2 separate regions of the Homo sapiens genome follow, and region 1 is linked to region 2. The links come from fine-mapping of genetic effects on gene expression. A gene starts in region 2. The other region holds a variant in brackets. All regions are shown on one strand. Distances are from middle to middle. Region 1 overlaps C10orf88 (chromosome 10 open reading frame 88). Region 2 holds the start of BUB3 (BUB3 mitotic checkpoint protein).

Region 1 (2,919 bases), 220 kb before region 2:
TCTATCAGAGAGAATTGCAATCCCTTGACTCATATGTGTTCATCCTTCCATGGAGAGCCTCATTATTTCATACAATAAACATGCCAGAAAAGGATTCTGGGGAAAAAACCTGTATCAGCTCAAAAGGAGAGGTTTTCTTAAACTGTCTGGGGTTACTGAGGTCAAACAAGATGACTGCATCTGTTTTACAGGAAAAATCAAATCCAAAGTACTAATCGTAACAAGGACTAGGCTAGTTCTGATGTTTACTTTCCTACCTACAGCTACTCTGTAATGAAACAAATAATATTAACAACCCCAGAGTGAACTAAGTTTACACATGCCAAATATCACATCTTATTCATTATCTCACACAAGCAATACAAAATGTAAACTGGTAATCTGAAGTAAAGGCTCCAAGTCTTAAGTATCCAATTTTCCAAGATAATTAGAAAAAGAAAAAAATCAAATACTCTTAAGCATTATTTTTCATACTTCTAAGACTATAAGATCTTTGTATAAATAAAAATTATACTTAAACACATATACAATACAAACTAATGAACTGTATTAGAAATCCTCAAGCATTTTAAACTCTTAACACAAATATACATACATTTCTGTAAGACTGAAAAATATCGTGAGCAAAAATAATTTGACTGTATCATATTAACTCAGTGTACAGTACTGGATTTAAAATAACAAGTGTAGTAAAAACGAAAACTGAGGTCACTTTGTGTAAGACAATGATCCCTCAAAGGACATTAAATACTTGCTTTTTATAAATATTTTTGGGTTTTGGCTTTGTAATAAATATGTAATAAATATCTGCAGTACACTGTTTATGTTGAGAGCTTATCTTTCTCCATTTGAAAGTCTTTCTCCAGAGTCATAATGTCTTAGAGGTATCCCAGTGGGCGGGGAGTTAGGATTTTGCAGCAAATCCAGTAACAAAGCAATCTTATCATCAATGTGCTCCTGGAGTTCATGTATTCGCTGATCAATGTAATCCATAAGTTTCTTTTCCATCAGTTCCATATTTTTAGAAAGAATCTTTTCCAAGTAGGAGCAAATAGATTGCTCTTCCATTCTAAAAATACATTTTTAAAAATGTGTAAATTTTCCCTAATAACAAAAACAACCAAGCTTATAAAACAAGCAGCCAACATATATTGCTGAGATTTGTCTCCACAACTGTGCTCTGTCTTCTTACAATGCATTTCTAGGTCCTAATACACATCCACAATAGGCAACCACAGCCCTAAATGCCCAACACATTATTAATTCTTTTTTAGTATACAATTGAACAGAAATGTAAAAGTGAAAAGGAACCCTCAAAGAGCAAGTCTTTAGAAAGGGTCTTTTTGATTTTGAGGTCCAAATCAAAACTGATCTGGCCCAATTTTCTTCTAAAGTCAACATGCATATTTTCAAATACTTCCCCAACCAACTCTATAAAGTTTTTCTTCCTTCATACAAACAACCTTACTAAACTACTAGAAGGTTCTTTTTTTTAACCTGGTATAAAAACACTTCAGAATTTAACTAGAATGGGCAAACTAACAAAATAAATAAAAAGCACACCAATTTCTAA[C/T]GTTCACAATGAACATTAGAACAGTAAGTCTCAGGGCAGGCACGGTGGCTCACGCCTGTAATCCCAGCACTTTGGGAGGCTGAGGTGAGTGGATCACTTGAGGTCAGGAGTTCGAGACCAGCCTGGCCAACATGGTGAAACTCTTGTCTCTTACTAAAAGTACAAAAATTAGCTGGGTATGGTGGTGGGCGCCTGTAGTCCCAGCTACCTGGGAGGATTGCTTGAACCCGGGAGACAGAGGCTGCAGTGAGCTGAGATTGCGCAACTGCACTCCAGCCTGGGTGATAAGACTCCGTCTCAAAACAAGAACAGTAACTCTCAGAATGTGGTCCACAGAACCTTGGGGTCTCCATGATTCTTTTGGGAATTCACTGAGGTCAGAAGTATGTTTATACTAAGATGTTATTCGACTTTCTCATCCTCATACTCATGAATTTTCCAGAGGCTACAAAATCTATGTTATTGCCCTGATGACTAACAGAATCTGTAGTTGTGTATTCTTCTTTCCTAAAATTTCAAGGTAGTAGAGATTTAGTGTATAAATATATGCTTTTTCAGAGATTAATCCACTCTGTTCTCAGTATTCCTACTGTGCTCTTACTAGCTATATTTCACTATACATGCTATAATTCAATATACATGATAATGCAGCCAAAAGCTATTATGTATAGATTCATGTACATTTAAAATAATACTATTCTCAATAAAATTTTAAAAGAAAATCTGGCTTTTTTTCATAAAGACTGTTATTTATGTTAATATACAGTGGGTTTATTGTTATTTTTAAACAAATATTTTTATGTAGCCTACATAAGTTTATTGGAGTCCTCAATTAAGAGTGTAAAGACCAAAAGTCTGAGAGCCACTACTCTAGAATACACCAAAGACAGTTTTTAAGAAACTCTGTATTTTGAAATAATTATGGATTCACAGGAAGTTGCAAAGATATTAGTTTCTCAGTGCCCTTTATCCAATCCTCCCAATGGTCACATCTTATCTACCTATAATCCAATATCAAAACCAGGAAATTGATATTAATATGATGTGTGTGTATAGTTCTATGCCATTTTATCATATGTACACATATTTATTTAAACACCACCATAATCAAAAGGCAGAACCATTCTTTAACTGCAATGATCTCCTCCCTGCTACCCCTCTATTGTCATACCTACTCCCCTAAAGTCTTCTTTCCCTAATACCTGGTAACCATCAATATGTTGTTCATCTCTACAGTTTTATTATTTTGAAAATATTATAAAGTGAGATCATACAGTATGTGACCTTTTGAGATTCTCTTTTGTCACTCAGCAAAATGCCTTTGAGAGATGTCCAAGTTGTTTTTT
Region 2 (2,856 bases):
GGATAATGAAATACACTTAGATTTTATTAGTGGGTAATTCATGCTCAGAATCTTGGAACAATAATATAATTAAATAAACAACTGGGAGAAGGAACCAGATAAGTCAGGAGGTAAAATTATTTAGCTAAAGTTAGAATGGAAGTAAGGAACTGCATTTCAAAATTTTGAATTCAGCCATTAACTTGTGGAAAGAGAAGAGATAGAGAACCAAGTACCAGGACTGGCAAGGAAGGAGGGCAAGAGTCTTTCAGCAGTAATGTCATCAATGCAGTAGGCAGAAAGGTTGTTGTTGTATGTGTGTTTCTTGTGTCAGGAATCACAGAAAGAGGTGCATCCAATTCAGGGTGTGTGAATGCATAAAGATCATCAACACTTTCTCATTAATGTCCCTTAAAAGTTAATCACTTTAACCCCACAATTTTCTCTCACTTCACACAAAATCAAATAAAACGATATATATTTTTCTTTTACAAAAGGCAGTGAAAAAGCGGTTAAAGCATGGATTAAATTGAAATTTTTCAGTGAGCCTTTGACATTCAAGAATAACTCAGTCACTTCATTCTACTGATTAAGTATTGCTTTTCTTTCATGGAGATAAAATAATTTCTCATACTCAAGCAACCTTCTTGATCCTCATTTCTAGAGGATTCTAGAAAACAGCAAATGGAGCACACTGAGCCTGCAACTTTGGGGAGTGGCAGGACAGAGTGGAAGGGGAGAGGCTTGTAGCTGTCGTTTCAGGACCCTTCAAAAAAGAGCTCTAAAAGAAGTGGTGGGAGCTTTAACACATTGCAGAGTACTGTCTCCCAGGCTGTTCACCCTTCTGAAGGGGGGTTCCTGAAGGGCAAAGGCTGGTCTGATTACATGCATCTTTCCAGAGCCTCTCACCAGGCCTGGCGCCAGTGGAGGCTCAATAAATGTTTGTGGAAAGATGGGGTGGAGAGATAAAGCATAATATAAATATGAATGGGTTTCTTCAGCAGAACTTGAGACAATGGGAAATGGGAGACCCTGGTTTATAGGTGGAAATTCCCAAGAAATGAGAAAAAAAAAATCAAGGCAAAATAATGCAGTTGATAGAGCAAATATTTCCTCCTCTACATCAACTTTTGGTTAGCTTCACGGGCGTGTGCACGCCCAGGGATAGGGAGACAACTTTAGGACTATATAAGTATTGCCCAAAATGGGATTCTTGTGTTTCAGAGACTAACTTCAAGGGGAGGGCGCCATGGACAGAGCTGTAAAGATCTTTCCCGCTTTCTATGAAGAGGGCGGGCAGAGCGTCAGCCCCTAGAAAACTACATTTCCCAGAATGCCATACGCAGGCGGGAGAGGGCATGAACAGAGCCTTGGCGCGATGCTCCTTGGGAGGTGTAGTTTCCACGCGTCCAGCTCGAACGCTGATGCCCCAGCGCGGTGGTAAAATGAGCCCACGTGATCGGAAAAGCAGCGGTTTCCCTTTGAGCCGGAACAGGATGACTGGGTTGACCGATGCTGGGCAGCTGAGCGGACCAATCGGCCCCCTAGACTGAGACGTTGGCGTTTGAAATCAGCCAATGGCAGGTCTACACTGGAGCTTCCTCTCCGCCTCCTTCGCCTAGCCTGCGAGTGTTCTGAGGGAAGCAAGGAGGCGGCGGCGGCCGCAGCGAGTGGCGAGTAGTGGAAACGTTGCTTCTGAGGGGAGCCCAAGGTAGGGAGGCGAGGCGACGGTGTGCGGGAGCGGGCTCTCCAGGGACTTCCCGGGTCCGCAACTGGCAGGGCCGTTCGATTCGCAGGGGATCCCGTTTCGTTTCTGTTGTTTTCCCTTTATTTTTAGGAGTGCCCGGGGCGACGGGACCCCGGGAGAGGGGAAAGGGAACAGTCTGGGGTCCGGGCATCGCTGTGGGCCGGGCTGGGTTTAGGGGGACGGCGGTGCGGGCTGGGCCGGTTTGGGCGCGGCGGGGGCCGGATGATGGGGCGAGTCCGGACCTTGGCGGGCGAGTGCTCGGCGCAGGCGCAAGCGCAGAGTCTCCTCGCGGTCGTCCTCTCGGCCCCTCCCTCTGGGGGGACCCCCAGTGCCAGGCTGTCAGTGCGCAGCCCCAGCCCGCGGGACCCCTGGGGACTCTGGGCGCCTGTTCTGCAGATGACCGGTTCTAACGAGTTCAAGCTGAACCAGCCACCCGAGGATGGCATCTCCTCCGTGAAGTTCAGCCCCAACACCTCCCAGTTCCTGCTTGTCTCCTCCTGGGACACGTCCGTGCGTCTCTACGATGTGCCGGCCAACTCCATGCGGCTCAAGTACCAGCACACCGGCGCCGTCCTGGACTGCGCCTTCTACGTAGGTGCCCTCCCGCCCTGCTCCTGCCCTCTTACTGTGTTAACGATTCTCCACGTGAGGAGCGTTTCTTTTCCAGTGTTGGGTAGAGGCGTCTGTCGGTGGGGTTATTTGGACAGTTCTTTAGCTTTTCAGGAGCATCTGCCTTGAACCTGTACCGTTTTGGGTTGGAGACATGCAGACATTGGAAACTCCGTCTCCCCTTTTCTGTTACACGCTTGTGGAGTAACTCTAAACTTTCTGAAAATACGATCATTATATTTGCAACAATACTGTTTTGGCTGCCGTATTGAAAGGAACCGTTTAGGGGAAATGTATGTTTACCCTCAGCTAGCGTGTTGGCTAGGATAAAGCAGCCCTCCTTTAATTTCCAGACACAGGAGTTTAGTGACCACTTGCTTTTTTATGCTGTTTTTTGGTTTGTTTACCATGAATAGTTGAGCCCAGTGCATATCCCGAGCATAAACTGAACACTTGCTTGTAGAAATAAGAATGTTGAAACCCTTTCAAAAGTTCTAGTTTTTAAACGGTTCAAAACTATT

What was found. PIP is the estimated chance that this variant, and not a neighbour inherited with it, causes the effect.
Region 1: its variant is the best candidate, but not a certain one, in a credible set for the expression of BUB3 in esophagus mucosa (GTEx, PIP 0.70).

The regions. Positions count from the first base shown.
Region 1 is chr10:122,931,593-122,934,511 of GRCh38, forward strand. It overlaps C10orf88 (chromosome 10 open reading frame 88), which reads right to left. Exons shown (of 6, transcript NM_024942.4): 6 at 1-1,069. The coding sequence ends at 835. Among named protein-coding and RNA genes, the nearest start is that of C10orf88, 21 kb to the right of the region's middle. The variant C/T (reference allele first, on the strand shown) is at 1,574.
Region 2 is chr10:123,152,796-123,155,651 of GRCh38, forward strand. It overlaps BUB3 (BUB3 mitotic checkpoint protein), which reads left to right and starts at 1,607. Exons shown (of 8, transcript NM_004725.4): 1 at 1,607-1,690; 2 at 2,123-2,317. The coding sequence starts at 2,123. RefSeq lists enhancers at 1,278-1,572, 1,292-1,461, 1,298-1,457, 2,188-2,257 and a cis regulatory region at 1,377.